Linked DNA regions of Homo sapiens: region 1 is linked to region 2. Evidence: fine-mapped expression QTL. Tissue or cell type: whole blood. Region 2 holds a variant in brackets; the other region holds the start of a gene. All regions are shown on one strand. Distances are from middle to middle.

Evidence for each region. PIP is the estimated chance that this variant, and not a neighbour inherited with it, causes the effect.
Region 1: ASPHD2 starts here. The variant in region 2 is fine-mapped to the expression of ASPHD2 in whole blood (INTERVAL, PIP above 0.99).

Annotation. Positions count from the first base shown.
Region 1 is chr22:26,426,182-26,434,181 of GRCh38, forward strand. ASPHD2 (aspartate beta-hydroxylase domain containing 2) reads left to right here and starts at 3,079. Exons shown (of 4, transcript NM_020437.5): 1 at 3,079-3,305; 2 at 7,211-8,000. The coding sequence starts at 7,435. RefSeq lists silencers at 2,920-3,049, 3,170-3,229, 4,962-5,256.
Region 2 is chr22:26,752,180-26,760,439 of GRCh38, forward strand. All of the region lies in intron 2 of MIATNB (MIAT neighbor), which reads left to right. Among named protein-coding and RNA genes, the nearest start is that of MIATNB, 83 kb to the left of the region's middle. RefSeq lists enhancers at 1-831, 832-1,829. The variant G/A (reference allele first, on the strand shown) is at 3,550.

The DNA of each region.
Region 1 (8,000 bases), 330 kb before region 2:
ATGAGACGGTGTAATGATAGGTTGTGTAGTCTCGGAGTGGGTAGGATGACTGCGCTAAAGAAGGCAGCGAGAGCAGGAGGATGCAGGTGGCAGCCAAGCTGAAGGCAGGCAATTCAGATGCCCTTGGTCCTCCTCTCCGCCTCTCCATGAGCACAGTAACAATTTATCTGGAGCTCTCACCCAAAATCCCCCTCTGAAAGGCATGGATATCCTTTTCTGCAGAATTCACCTAGTAGGGTCTCCAAGGGGTTGACAGAGGCCCAGGTCATTTCCATTTATTGAGACTCCCAGCTAATTAAAAAGATGAAGAAATGGTAAGCAGGGCTAACAAAATTGCGTGTATAGTAATATTGCCATTGAACAAATAAATACTAACAAATGCAGAGCAGTGGTCTACAGATATCATATAATTGCACTGGTCAAGGACACTTATAGGATTGATAGACAATATTAATTCATAATACAGTACAGATAAGATGGTGCAGGAATGGAACACATATTTACAATATAAAAATATCTTTTTTTTTTCAAACCTGCCAGGATAATGCTGTGATAGAATGTATGACTGCCTTTGGAGAATTCTAAGTTTGAGCAACTTTCTGAATGTGAGATGAGTCAAATACCCCCCACTCCATTTTCTCCACCCCACCCAGGCTCAACCACTCTTAGGCTGACAGTGAAGACAGACATCCCATTTAATGTTTCTAAATCTGATGCCTGTGTTGATTATCCACACTTTGAGCAAATCTGTGCATATTATGGTTTCCCAATGCAAGTGTTTTGGTTTATTTTAGTAGAATAAAAGAGAAAAAACATTCTTCCTCTTTTGGAGTTGAGAAAAGGAGAGAAATGACAGAGATGAAGAAGAGTCTAAGACATGGAAGAGGTGTATTCTGGGACATGGGAGAGGTGTACTCTGGGACATGGAAGAAGTGGGTTCTGGGACATGACAAACTGGGTTCTGGAACAGGGAGGAGGTGGATTTTAGGCTATCACAGTAGAGGCAGATTCTTAGGTCAGGGACCAGGTGGATTTTGGGACAGAGATGAGAGGTGGGTTCTGGGACATGGTGGAGGTGGGCTCTGGGACAGGGAGGAGGTACATTCTGGAACAGGGTGAAGGTGGCTTCTGGAACAGGGAGGAGGTGGGTACTGGGACAGGGTGGAGGTGGGTCTTGGAACAGGGAGGAGGTGAGTTCTGGAACAGGGTGGAAGTGAGTTCTGGAACAGAGAGGGGGTGGGTCCTGGAACAGGGAGGAGGTGGGTTCTGGCACAGGGTGGAGGTGGGTCCTGGGACAGGGAGGAGGTGGGTCCTGGGACAGGGAGGAGGTGAGTTCTGGAACAGGGTGGAGGTGAGTTCTGGAACAGAGAGGGGGTGGGTCCTGGAACAGGGAGGAGGTGGGTTCTGGCACAGGGTGGAGGTGGGTCCTGGGACAGGGAGGAGGTGGGTCCTGGGACAGGGAGGAGGTGAGTTCTGGAACAGGGTGGAGGTGAGTTCTGGAACAGAGAGGGGGTGGGTCCTGGAACAGGGAGGAGGTGGGTTCTGGCACAGGGTGGAGGTGGGTCCTGGGACAGGGAGGAGGTGGGTCCTGGGACAGGGAGGAAGTGCGTTCTGGAAGAGGGAGGAGGTGCGTTCTGGAAGAGGGAGGAGGTGGGTTCTGGAAGAGGGAGGAGGTGGGTTCTAGAAGAGAGAGGAGGTGGGTTCTGTAGCAGGAAGGAGGTAGGTTCTGGCACAGGGTGAAGGTGGGTCCTGGGACAGGGAGTAGGTGGGTTCTGGAACAGGAAGGAGGTATGTTCTGGAACAGGGTGAAGGTGGCTTCTGGAATAGGGAGGAGGTGGGCTCTGGGACAGGGTGGAGGTGGGTCCTGGGACAGGGAGGAGGTGGGTCCTGGGACAGGGTGGAAGTGGGTCCTGGGACAGAAAGAAGGTAGGTTCTGGAAGAGGGAGGAGGTGGGCTCTGGAAGAGGGAGGAGGTGGGTTCTGGAAGAGGGAGGAGGTGGGTTCTGTAACAGGAAGGAGGTGAGTTCTGGCACAGGGTGGAGGTGGGTCCTGGGACAGGGAGGGAGGTGGGTTCTGGAACAGGAAGGAGGTACGTTCTGGAACAGGGTGAAGGTGGCTTCTGGAATAGGGATGAGAAATGGATTCTGGGACAGACATGAGGTGGCTTCTGGGCCATGTTAGAGATAAATTCTGGGACACAAGAGAGGTGGGTCTGGGACAGAGACAGATGGATTGTGGGCGGGCCATCCTACTCTATGCTCCCAGAACCCACCCATGCAGTTTCCCTGGCGCCCCTAACACATCCCGTAGCCACTGTTAGTCTCCCCCAGGTCTTAGCTCAAACGTCACCTCCTCCAAGCAGCCTCCTTGGGGCCTCCATTCGCAGCTCATCAGTCCCCTGGTCAGACAACCGTCCTGCCTGTACTTCCCCTCCTAAACCCTACCCGGGGGTGAGGGTCCCCTCCCGCTAGACGGTGGCTCACTGAGGGCAGGGCGGGCCTGAGCGCTCACCGCGCACGCTCAGCGCAGCTGGCAGGGACGGGGACCCAGGCTGGCCCATCATTACTGTACTGAGCGAATGAGTTTTCCATGAGACTAAGAATCTGGTTTGATTTGCGGTTCCATTCCAAGTGCCTGAGGGCCTCAGAAGTCCGTGTTGAGTCCATCAATAAAGGAAAGAAGGCGTTAGGGCGAGAGGAAGTGAGGTGGGGGGGAAGTGAAAGAGAATGAAAAGGAGGAAATGGAGACGAGGGCGACTCAGAGAGGAACAGAGAGACAGAGGGAGGGAGAACTGAGAAAGACACAGAGCGAAAAACGAAAGAGCGAAGGAAGCGACGCGAGCCTTTCTTAATGAATGACTGCACGCCCGTCGCCGCCTGCGCGCAACCTCGGGCTGGGCGGGCGCTGCGTCTCGGGGCGCACTGCCAGGACCCTCCGGAGCGGCGGCGGGCGCGGCCTCGGGTCGCCTCCCGCACTGCGAGCGCAGGTGCCGGGTGCAGGGGGGTCCCCGGCCCCGCCCCGCAGGCCCCGCCCCCCCGTACCCCCTCCCCCGGCGGCCCAGCGCGCGCGGCATTGTGGGAGTTGTGGTCTTCGCGGCCCCGCGGAGCGCAGCGCGGCGTCGGCACCGGCAGGGGCACCGGCGCGGCTTAGGCTCGGGCTCGGGCTCCGGCTCGGGCTCCCGCGGCGTGGGCTGGGCAGCAGCCAGGCGGCGGCTCCGCGGCGCCGGGCAGGGGCCGTCCGCGGGTCCGCGCCCTCGGGCGGCGGCGTCTCCTGGGTCCCGGCAGCCGTCCGCGCGCCCGGGCGCAGGTAAGCTTCGTCTCCGGGGGCTGCCGGGGCGGGAGGGCGGCGCGGCTGGGCCGACCCCAGGACAGGGGTTGGAGGCGGGAGCCCGGCAGCTGCAGGCCCACGGCCCTCCCTTACCGGCGCCGCCGCCGCCGCCGCCCCCGCCGAGGATGCTCCGGGACCCGGGCGCCCGCATCCCGGCCCGGCCGAGGCCAGTGCTCGTACGTGCTAAGCGCCGCCGCCTCGGAGCCGGGCATCACCCTCCCTAGACCTCCTCCTACTCCTCTTCCCTGCCCCATCGTGGTCCCTTCCTCCATCTCCCTTCTCCCCTGTGACCCCTCTTTCCTCACCTCCTGTCCCCTCCCCCAGCCCTCAGCATCACCCACTTCCCATATTTCACGTGGTGACCCTCCTCCCCTGTCCCACGAATTATGAGGCGCCATAAACCTCCTTCCACAATCTTGAGCTGATCGTCCACTTTTCCGGGCAACACTCACCTTTCCATCGTCCCATCCCCCTCCTCCCCTGACCTCCTGGTGGTCACCATCTGTGCTAACCCATCTTCAGCCCTCCCCTCTTTCCCACTCTCCAGGGCAGGTGGGTGCTGAGAAGCTGGCCAAGAGAGGGAAGGTCCCCAGGTCTGCACCGGGAAGGGCTGGCCCCACGGCATCTCTCTGGCTCCTGAGTGGAGAGGGTGACAGGCATCACACACCTTGCCCAGTGCTGCTCACTGGGGGGCTTCCAGGGTGACTTGGCCTCATCCTGAGGGTGAGCAGACACTCTTTGGCATTAGGCAGCCTCTGGGAATGGACATCTGAACTAGGCTGACCAGGTCAGGCCTGACACCGGCTCTCCCAGGTGTTCATGGTGTGAGAAGTTGTCTTGGATTGGACTTGCTCTCCAACTGGCCATGGATTTGGACTCAATTCCCCAGAGCCAACTGAGCTGGAAGATCTGGGGTTGCTTATTATTAAAGTGCAGAGCTGCAATGAGATGTCCCCATCCCTGATGAGGACAGAAATAACACAGATGACAATGAACAGATGTGCGAAGGAAGCTGGAAGCTACTGTGGTCACTGGGCAAGGAGCTGTCGGGGGAGAGAGTCTCTCCTCTCCCCACTGGGTAGATGGGGAGTTGTCACTAGGTAGCTGTGAGGATCAAATGTTTGAAGCAGTGCTTAATAAACTGCCAGTCACTCTGCAAATGTGTTTCTTTTATTGTCATAGTTCAGCTTTGAGCTTGTAAATCCACCTCCGGGTGCAGGGGCCTGTTGGCATATTTTGGCTAAAAGTGACTGACAGGTATGAAAAGTCCTAACTTGAGCTCTCAGTGCTATTTATGATCTCGGGAGGAGGGTCTGAAGCTGGGGTTCAGAATCTTTTACATTCTTTTGCTTACAGCTCAGCCTTAGGGAGGGCTCATGGCTGGCTTAGTACAGAAGGAGGCTTTCCTGAGAAGAGTACAGGGCTGGGGTGTCCAGTGGAGAGGTTTCTCCATCATCCACCCTGTTTTCTGTGTCTGCATTTTGCTTGACTTAAGTGATCAGCAGGGCTGATGGGAACTAACACTTTACAGGTGCTTGTTAAATTATCACCGTCTCACTCTTAGAACATTTAAGAAAAAAACCTTTCCTCCTGACAGACTCAGTTGAAAAGTTCCAGTAGGGGTTTAGCTCAGTGATGGGGGAAATCCTTTTAGTAAAAGTGCTTGGTGTCACATAGATGATTGTTTCACACTGAATTTCAGGAACTCTGAGGTTCTGTTTGGGAGATGGCTTGCAAACAAAACATCTTTCATCTGGATTTTCTTTCCTTTTCCTAAAGAGTAACAGCTGCCAGTTTATGGTCTAACAAGGAGAGAAACAGGGGGCTGAAGGGGTTTCTTAACCTCCAGTGAGTCATAGCCTTTTCCTCTTCTCCTGAATCTGAGAAGAAATTGAGAATGTGTGGGAAAGAAAAAAAAAAAAAAACAAAAGAAAACAAAAAACAACTTAGCTTCTAACCTCCCCACTCTTGTATTTTTCCTAGAAACATAAAAAATTTCCATGAATATTCAGCATGTGTGTTTTTGACTTACTAAACATTATAGTCAAGTGATTATTCAACCGAAACTGGGAAAAAGCAAGTAGGCAGTTAATGAGCACCTAAGGTTTCCCTTTCATTTTTAGCTTAGCAAGTCTGGGGACAAAAAAGCCACTCAATACATGAGGCAACAAGAGTGTCCAGGATTTACCTTTAACTGTTGGAATTCCGAGTCTTGCTATACCTTTCTCTCGTGCCCCACCTTTGGAACGCTGGCTACTCATTATGGGATGCCACCCATCCTAGCCGTCGCCTGCATATATTGGGTGCTCATTATGACGTGGTCGTAAGTGCTGTCCATCCGCCATCATTCATCTTCATCCAGTGAGATGAACACGAACCCCATTTCATGGATAAAGAAACTGAGGCAGCCAGGCGCAGTGGCTCACGCCTGTAATCCCAACACTTTGGGAGGCTGAGGTGGACGGATCACCTGAGATTGGGATTTCAAGACCAGCCTGACCAACATGGAAAAACCCCATCTCTACTAAAAATACAAAATTAGCTGGGTGTGATGGCGCATGCCTGTAATCCCAGCTACTCAGGAGGCTGAGATAGGAGAATCACTTGAACCTGGAAGGTGGAGGTTGTGGTGAGCCAAGATTGCACCATTGCACCCCAGCCTGGGCGATAAGAGTGAAACTCCGTCTCAAAAGAAAAGAAACAGGCTTAGGAAAAGCGATCTGCCCAAGGTTGGGATGAATCCTCAACTGGGCCCATCTCTAATCTGGCTTCTCTCTGCTACGATGCTGCAAGAATTTTCAGGCCAAATTTCAGTCCCTGGGTAAAGGGAGGGTACAACTTTTCCATTTTTTAAGCTGTGAGAGGGTAGAGTACAAAAGGGATATTTGAAATTGTGCTCCCTGAGTATCAGACTTGTAGAAGCAGAGACCTGGCTGTTCTCATTGTATTAGAAGAAGCAGGATGAACAAAAGGTTTTGGAGAATGCTGGGAAACACGGCTGGGGTTTGAGAGACTTAGGCAGCATGACATTCAGGCCCTTTTAGGTTATTAGGACAATGAGAGTTCCGGGCTCTGTCCCTAACCCCCAGCTAGGTAAGTGGCAAAGCACTTCTGGCTGTTTTGGAGATGCTGTCAGCTGTGGGAAACTGAGGCAGAGGCCTGGAAGGGCTTTTATTTTCATTCTACCTCCCTCATTTTCCTTTCATGACCCTATGGGTGAGACCATAGGTAGTCTCCAGGTGGGTAGACAGAAAATGCCCTTTGCCGCAGGCATGACCTCAAGAGTGCCTACTTCCTCTTCCAACTTGGTATTAGCCCAACCTCTGTCAGAAGGGCAACAGAATGAAATAAGGATGATGAAATGCTTGCAAAGAGAAAGTGAAATGGAGAATATGCAGTTTTTAAGTCCCTTTGCCATTTTTAAGATGCTTTTGAATCCAGGATTCTTTTGAATTAAAGGTACAGCGATCACAGGAGTATAAGCATTGATTAAATACCTATGATGAAATAGCACAGCAAAATGGGTAGACATGGGCCTTGAAGTCAGATGGGGTTTGAGTCTCTGCCCTGGCTGTATAACTCTCGTGAGTTATGTAACTTCTCTGAGCCTCAGTTTTCTCATCTGTAAAATGGGGATAATAGCACCTCCTATGGAGGGCACAAAGCAGATGGGACCACTGTAATTATAAGCAGTACCTGATGCAGATGAAATACTACTGGCCTTTTGGGAAATGGGAGTGGCAGTAGAATGGGGAGGGAATACACAAGATTGCAAAGTGTGACCCCCACCAACTAGGATCCTACAGAACGATCTAACACTTTACATTTCAGTTGAGGACTTTTCCAGGTGTAAAATTTATGCTGATTTTTTTTTTCCATCCCAGGTTTGGTTTTCCTAAACAAATCCTTTCACAGGGACCGACGGCACTTGATAATGTGACAAAAACCAGCCTCTTCCACCCCACTGCAGTGACTTTTGCCGGAAAGTGGAGCAGTGGGCACGGCCAACCTTGTCGTTCATCAATGCCGCCCCTGGCAGTATCTGAGGATCGGTGGCAGCCATGCCTCCCCCTGCCCCAGCCGCTCCTTCCCCCCCACGCTAATCTGCATGGTGTGGGCGCCCTTGGGACCCCCGAGGACTGATTGTCTGACCTTGCTTCACACGCCCAGTAAGGACTCCCCCAAGATGTCGCTCGAGTGGCTGGTGGCCTGGAGCTGGTCGCTGGATGGCCTGAGGGACTGCATCGCCACCGGCATCCAGTCCGTGCGGGACTGCGACACCACCGCTGTCATCACTGTGGCCTGCCTCCTGGTCCTCTTCGTGTGGTACTGTTATCACGTGGGCAGGGAGCAGCCCCGGCCCTACGTCTCCGTCAACTCCCTCATGCAGGCTGCCGATGCCAACGGGCTGCAGAATGGCTACGTGTACTGCCAGTCCCCTGAGTGCGTGCGCTGCACCCACAACGAGGGCCTCAACCAGAAGCTGTACCACAACCTGCAGGAGTACGCCAAGCGCTACTCCTGGTCCGGCATGGGCCGCATCCACAAGGGCATCCGCGAGCAGGGCCGGTACCTCAACAGCCGGCCCTCCATCCAGAAGCCCGAGGTCTTCTTCCTGCCCGACCTGCCCACCACGCCCTATTTCTCCCGGGACGCACAGAAACATGATGTGGA
Region 2 (8,260 bases):
AGAGAGGGGTGGGGAGTCTGAGGTGTGCTTGAGGAAGAGACCTGGGAGAGGTGACCAGTGTGGGGGACACTATGTTGCCCAGCCCTCTGCATTCTGTGTCCGAGGGCCCCCCAGAGCCCCAGGACTTATCCTGACCCACCCCCCCAACCCTGTGTCATGCAAGCCCAAAAGCCAGCGTCTCTTCCTGGCTGCCCAGGACTGCTGAGATGCAGGAAGGTGGGCATCTGAGGTGTCAGTGGGAGACTGTTGGGGGTAGGGGTGGGAACCCTGGCTTCCTGAGAGCAGGAATGGTGGACATGTGGGACCCTTCTGCTGGGGTGGGGCCGGGTGCAGTTCCTCTCCTGCCTGAGGCACCCCATTCCATCACTTGCTGAGGCCTGAGCCCTTCAGCCACCATCTGGGGGATGCAGTCACAGCGGGAGATCGTGCTCCCCACTGTAAGTTGGCAGCCTGTTTATCAGTCTGGCCTAAGAGGTGCAGCTTTCCGAGTGATTTCCCAGATCCTGATCCACCCCAGAAAATGAGCACATGGAGTCTCGACACTCCCTGGGACCTCACTTAGCTCCCCAGAGCCCTTCTGTCTGTCTGTCCATCTCTCTCCTGCTTTAAGGAGTTGTCCTGTCCCTGGGCAGACAGACTCCCAGGATCTGCTGGGAAAGACCCGTTGGGCTCTGACCCCAAATGGTTTCTGATTGCTGGAGGGATGCACCTCTTAACAGCTATGTTCTATGCATGTTACCCGGGGGCAGGGGCAAACAGGAAGTGCTTCTGGTGTTCAGAGGGCTGGAGGAGTGAAGGGTGGGGGGCTGCCTGGAGGAGGTGGCATGCTTCTGGAACAGATGAAAGAAAACAGTAAGTGTCAGAGCCAGGTCCTTTCAGGACACTGTTAGTGGTGGACAGTGATGATCTCCATTTTACAGATGAGCAAACTGGGGCTCAGAGACATTAGGGACCTGATCCAGGTGGTCCAGAGGCCAAAGAGGCCAGGTTTGAAGCTGGGTCTGTTTGATCCAAACCTGGGGCTTGTTTCGTTGTGCCCTGGTGCAGCCCAAGATGCGCATGTCCAGGCGGAAGATGTAGCCAGGTTAGCGTAACATTGGGGATTCAGGAGGAGCCTGGTTAAGGGGAGTAGAGGGCATGAGAGGAGCGATACTAGCCAGGAGGGGGCAGATGGGAGAAGAGTTTGTATTTAATGCTGCTGGAAATCTGATGATGCCACTCCACTTGCATAAAACCCTCGGTGGCTCCCCAATACCCTTGCAAAAGCCATAAATCCTCACTAGGGCTTCAAGATCCACCTTGGCCCTGCTTCCCTCAGCAGCCTCATCTCTCCCTGTGCTGGCACATGCTCACTTCATCCCCTGCAGGTCCTCAGTCTCACTCTGGGACCTTTGCCTACCAACCCCTTCTCTCTGGAGTGTTCTGCCCCACTCCCCTGGATGACTCACCCCCCACTCATTCTCCTCATCTCCACCTAAATGTCACCTCCTCCAGGAAGACTTCCTTGATCTCCTGAGTGCTCGCAGCCCCCTCGGCTTTCCTGTCACTCCGATCTAATTATTATATCTTTAGTGTCTGTTCCATACCCCCTGCCTGCCCCCACCTTAGTCTGTGAGCCCCATGAAGGGCAAAAACCAAGTCTGTTTATCACTGGATCCTTAGTGCCAAGAATGAATGGTGCCGGCACATAGCAGATACCCAACTGAAATTTATTGAATAAATGCATGAATAAAGAATGAATGAGGTAAGAAACCAGTGAAATTTTAGGTAGGAAGAGTAAATTGACAGAAATTGGCTGGTCGTGGTGCAGGATCAGGGCAAAAGGAATACTGATTCAGACAGAATGTCACCCCACTGTGCCTCAAGCCCCCAAAGTGCCCCCGATTTCATCCCACTTCCTCTGTCCTTTGCGTGGAGGTGGGGAGGGGACTCAGCCGGGGCCCTGAAGACATCCCTGCCTTACTCCTCCCTCCCTTTCCCCCAGCCTCCACCTGTGGACTGGAACTCCAGGTACCTTAGAGGCACTCCTCAGCCCTGCAGCTTGCCAGGGGCACTGATTTCTGGAGAAAATCTTAATGGAAATCTCTCCAGCTATTTTTCTCTCTATGAGGAATTAGCAACCACAAAGTGCTGTTTTGCAAATGGTGGCCCTAAGAAGCTGCTTTCTCAGGGCTTCGGTGATCACCAGGAAGACCATCAGTTATTGAGCACCTGCTGTGTGCATTTTCCAGGAAGACCATCAGTTATTGAGCACCTGCTGTGTGCATTTTCCATGAACAGTTTCTGTTCTTTACCACCATCTTGTGTGGTTGGAAATTTCATTCTCTCCACTTTAGGAATGGAGGGAATTGGAACTCAGAGAGAAGAGATTTGCTGAGGTCATTCACTGGAGAAGGTTGGAAACCGTGTTCATGTCAAGGTCTGTCTCTGAAGTCCTTGAGTAACTTCAGGGTGGGCACCGGATCCAGCTGCTGTGGTTCAGGTGCGATTCCTCCACATACATCTACATCATCTTGGGCAAAGGCTCCAGCTTGCTGTGCCTTAGCTTCCTTATCTGTACAGTGGGCACAATAATAGTAACCACTTCCCTGCATCATTGTGAAAAGTTAATAGTTGAGAAAATATTTAAAGTATTTGGCATGACGTCGTATGTTCTCACTCATAAGTGGGAGCTAAGCTATGAGGATGCAGAAGCATAAGGATGACACCGTGGAGTTTGGAGACTCAGCGGGAAAGGGTGGGAGGGAGGTGAGGGATAAAAGACTACAAATTGGGCCGGGTGCAGTGGCTCATGCCTGTAATCCCAGCACTTTGGGAGGCCGAGGCAGGTGGATCACGAGGTCAAGAGATTGAGACCATCTGGCTAAGATGGTGAAACCCCGTCTCTACTAAACATACAAAAATTAGCTGGGGGTGGTGGTGCACACCTGCAGTCCCAGGTACTTGGGAGGCTGAGGCAGGAGAATCACTTGAACCCGGGACGCGGATGTTGTAGTGAGCCGAGATGGTGCCACTGCACTCCAGCCTGGCGACAGTGAGACTCTGTCTCAAAAAAAAAAAAAAAAAAGACTACAAATTGGGTGCAGTGTATACTGCTTGGGTGATGGGTGCATCAAAATCTCACAGCTCACCACTAAAGAACTTACTCATGTTACCAAACACCACCTGTTCCCCAATAACCTATGGAAATAAAAAGTTTTAAATAATTAAATGTTTGGCACAGCGCATTAGACACAGAGCTCAGTCAGGTTAGCAGTTTGCATTAAAGTAAACCAATTTTGTTAGGTGCCTACTAGATGCTGGGGCTATAGCAGGGGAACAGGGCAGAGCCCACCCTCATGGTCTTACCTTCTGGCATTGCCACGCCACATGATATAAGGTATTCTTCTCTGAGCCTTGAGCCATGTCTACATTCACCCATTCCACAAATGTTAGTTGAATGTCTCGTATGTGCCAGGCAGGCCAGGTAAGGAGTAATACGCTGCCTCTCCCTGCAGGTAGAAGACAGGTAGAGGCAGGGGTCTGAGATGAAATAGATGAGAGCTCCAA[G/A]GAAATGTGTGTTGGGATTACGATTTGGGAAGAAGAGCGTCAGAGAGAACCTTCAGGAGTCATTAGAGAGGGGAGGGTCATCCAGGAGCAGGACACAGAGCATACAAAGGCCTGGAGTCACATTAAACTTAGTGGCTATTGGACTCCTTTTCTTTCCTAAACTCTGCAAATAGGTGTGATCAGGGACATGGCAACTTTAACCCTGACCGGCTTTATATTCACTACCTGTATCCTCTCACTTAATCTGCACAACAGTCCTGTAGTTATTGTTGTAAACGTGTAGGGATAGAGTCTTGCTTCTCTTATTTTACAGAAGCAGAGAGGTGGAATGCTGTGTCCAAAGGCACCCAGTTATCGGGTCGCCAGGTTTGCAAACACAAGCGCAAAAACACAGCATTCCCAGTTAAAAGTGAATTTCAGATGAATAATGAGTGATTTTTTTTAAAAAAGATAAATCTATCCCCTAGAGATCTTTGATATACTAAAAAATTATTTGCTACCCAGTTTTTGGTAACCTCACCCCATTTCCTTTCGTTTCTTTTCTTTCTTTCTTTTTTTCTTTAAGATGAAGTCTGGCTGTGTCGCCCAGGCTAGAGTGCAGTGGCATAATCTCGGCTCACTGGAACCTCCGCCTCCCGGGTTCAAGCGATTCTCCTGCCTCAGCCTCCCAAGTAGCTGGGATTGCAGGCGCCCGCCACCAAGCCCGGCTAATTTTTGTATTTTAATAGAGATGAGATTTCACCATGCTGGCCAGGCTGGTCTCGAACTCCTGACCTCAGGTGTGATTCGTCCGCCTTGGCCTCCCAAATTGTTGAGATTACAAGGCGCGAGCCACCGCGCCTGGCCCTCACCCCGTTTCTGAACCTCATTTAGCCTGTTTTTTTTTTTTCCTTGAAAATAAAGGTGGTTGTAATTATGATCTGGATTTCTTGAGGGCCTACGACGCACCAGGCTCTGTGCTAAGTGTTATACACAGAGTATCTTGAGCTTCCCACTAAAGGCAAGTCGCGGGGGGCCCACCTGCGCCCTCTGTGCCCGCCTGGTAGCCCGCAGTTCTGTAAACAGCCACGAGGTGTCGCCCTCTGCCCGTGGTATCCTGACGGCGGCGGGGGCGGCCGGGCGCGCGCGGCCCATTCATCACCGCGCGGCCGCGGCGCCCAGACAATGTGGGGAGCGGCCCTGGCCCGCGCCCGCGCGGCTGTCTGTACAAAGGATGCGCTGTTAACACGTGTACGGTAATGGGCTCCCTCACGGCCTCCTCCCCGGCCACCCGCTCCCAGCCTGACGGATGGCCCGAGCCATCCATCTACATTATGTCATGGGCGGTGAGCCTCCTCCTCCGTCCAGTCCGTCTGGCCGTCCAGGACCAGCCATGGCCTTGGCCGTGCGCCCTACTTGGGCAACCCCCATTCCCTTCCCCTCTGCGGAAGGAACCTCGTGCGGAGTGAGGCCTACTACGTGCTGGGCCCCAGCTGTGCTGTCTCCTTGATTTTCATGCAAGGTGATGTGGCTTATTAGCCCATCCTGCAGAGGAGGAAACTGAGACTTGAAGCTGGGAAACCTTTATTCTAAGAACACACAGCTCTGGGGTTTGATAGAGTTGGAATTTTTTTTTCTTACAGCTTTGTTGAGACTAGACTTCTCATACCATAGAATTCACACATGTAAAGTATACATTTCAATTTTTTTTTGTATGTTCACATAGTTCTGCAACCATCACCACAATTCAATTTTACAGCATTTTAGTAAATTCTCCCAAAGAAATCTTCTATCTGTTAGCAATCCCTCCAGCCCTTGTCAATCATTAATCTACTCTCTATCTGTGTAGATTCTCGACATTTCATACAAACGAAATCATGTAACATGTGGCCTTCTGTGCCTGGCCTATTTCACTTAGTATAATTTCAAGGTTCACCCATGTTGCAATGTGCATTAGTACTTCATTCCTTTTTATTGCAGAATAATATTCCATTGTATGGATATACCACATTTTATTGATTCATTTGCTCATTGTTTCCACTTTTTGGCTACTATGAATAATGCTGTGAAAAGGTTTTATGCGGATAGATATTTTCAATTTCCTTGCAGTGAAACTGCCAGATCGTATGGTAACATGATATTTAACTGCTCAAATATCTGCCAGACTGTTTTCAGAGTGGCTATACCATTTTACATTCCCACCAGCAGTGTATGAGGATTTGGGTTTCTCTGCATCCTTGTCAACACTTGCTACTATCTGCCTTTTTGATTCTAGCCACCCTAGGGGGTAGGAAGTGTATCTCATCGTGGTTTTGAGTTGCACTTCCCTGATGACCAAGGATGTCAGACATCTTTTCATTTGCTTACTGGCCATTCGTATATCTTCTTTGGAGAGAAATACTTATTCATATCCTTTGCTCATTTTTTAAAAAATGGGTTGATTGGCCAGGTGCGGTGGCTCACACCTGTAATCCCAGCACTTTGGGAGGCCAAGGTGGGCGGATCACCTGAGGTCAGGAGTTCAAGACCAGCCTAGGCAACACGGTGAAACCCCATCTCTACTAAAAATACAAAAATTAGCTGGGAACGGTGGGACATGCCTGTAATCCTAGCTACTCGGGAGGCTGAGGCAGGAGAATCACGTGAGCCCTGGAGGTGGAGGTTGCAGTAAGCCAGGATTGCGCCATTGCACTCCAGCCTGGGCGACAGAGTGAGATTCCGTCTGAAGAAAAAAAAGTTGGGTTGTCTTTTGATTGTTGAATTGTAAGCATTCTTTATATATTCTGGATACAAATCAGTTATCTGATATAAGAATCGGGAATATTTTCTCCCGTTCTATGGAGGGTCTTTTTACTATATGGTTTTGTTTGCAGCACAAAAGTTTTAAGTTTTGGTGGAAGTCCAACACACCCGTGTTTCTCTTTTGGTGCTTGTGTTTCTGGTATTGTCTTTCAGAACTAAGCTCTGTGGGACTCTAAAATTGGTCCTCTTTTTACTCCACTGAAGTGACAGGTATTTGCTCCCCCATAGGGATTGTGGAAGGAGCTGGTCAGGACTTGGTGGTTGTCTCAGGCTGGTCGGGCATGGAGCTGTGGGGAAGAACAATGACCCTGGAATAAACAATCTGGGTTCCAATCCTGGTTGGGCTATTGCTTTCCTTGGTTCACTGCCACTGAGACTCAGTTTTTTCATCTGTACAATGGAGATAATCGCACGTACCCTTGAGGTGGCTGTGAGATTAAACGAGGGGGTCCGAACACATGGAAGATGCTTGATAAACACAGCTGTGATGACAAAGGCCTGTGAGGTCCCTGAGAAGAGGCCCCGGCTCTCCGCTCTCCCCAGCATGGTGTGAGGCTCTGAACCCAGAACTTACAGCTGTGTTCCTACCCTTGGGATGCAGGTATTGGGATGCATGGCTAGGAGTCCCTGAGACTCCCTGTGCAAATGAACTTTTTTTCAAGTGTCTTAACTCAAAGCACAGTTTTTCTTTGTCCTGCTGAAAACTGCAAGGGCCTCAGAGTGAAGCAGAAGGGATCACTGGGCTTTCAGGCAGAGGGAGGCAGTGGCTCAGGTGGACCCATCGTCTCTGCTGGGTCTCTCCTGGCTCCCACAGCCACTTTATCTGACGTGGATTCTGTGAGGGGGTTCAGAGATGAGTGAAGATCCCAGCTAGGAAAAGGCACCTGGAAAGGAGGTGTTATCACCTTCCTTGGTACTGGTGATGCAACTGAGGCTCAGACAGGTGAAAGCCACTTGACCAAGGCCATACACCTCCCCCTTGAAAAGCAATGCAAAAAAGAGCTCCTGGCCTCTGGGCCTGAGGATCTTCAGGCATCATTCTGGGACATGCTGGGGAAAGTAGGCCTTCTCCCCATTGCGATCAGGGCCTCAGGAAAGTCCCTGTCTGCAGTGCACCTGCTCTGCCCCTCAGTGGGGCAGGGGGCTTTGGAGCCATGCAGGCCTGGGCTGAAATCTGGCTACCCACCACTTACTCTCTGAACTTCAGTCTCTTCATCTTTCCAGTGGAGATACTTATTGTTCCTGCCTCCAAGGTGGCTCTGAGGATAAAATAATTGAGGCGGGTACCAGCTTAGTATGGACTTGACCCTTAGTGAGTGCTTTGAAATAAAGACTATTACTATGGTTATTAATAACTGAGACAAGAGCTCTGCAACATAGATTCACATTGGGATGGCAGAGGCAGTGGGTGGGGTGGTGGTCAGACCGTTCCCCCATCAGGCATGGGCCCCAGAGCTGGAATGTTCAGGGCGTCAGGAAGCTGAGGGCGCTGTCCACTGGTGGACGGAGTTGGAGAAAACTGATTCTGACCCAGAAGGCAGCAGGTGGCAGGGCAGTTACCGAATGCAGAGCTGCTGGAGATGAGAAGACCTCGGGTCATGGCTCTGCTGAAGCCCGGCTGTGGAGAATGGGTCTTGCTGGCTGGTGGGGCTTCCTGTCCCAGAGCCTGGGTTGTGCTGGGTGGTGGTGGGGCTGGGAAATGGCTTAGCCCCTCCTGCCCCTCCAGATGACAGACGGACAGATAGACAGACAGACGGACACTCCACTAGGGGAACATCACCCATTTCTCATGGGTGTAGCCTCCTACTTCTCCAGCATCCTTCCGGAAATTTGTTTCCCTGGCTGTTGCTTCTCTCTGTGTATTTGTGTTCCCTGGGGCCTGGCCCCTAGCAGGGGCTGGCTCCTAGCAGGTGCTCAGTTAATGCCTGCT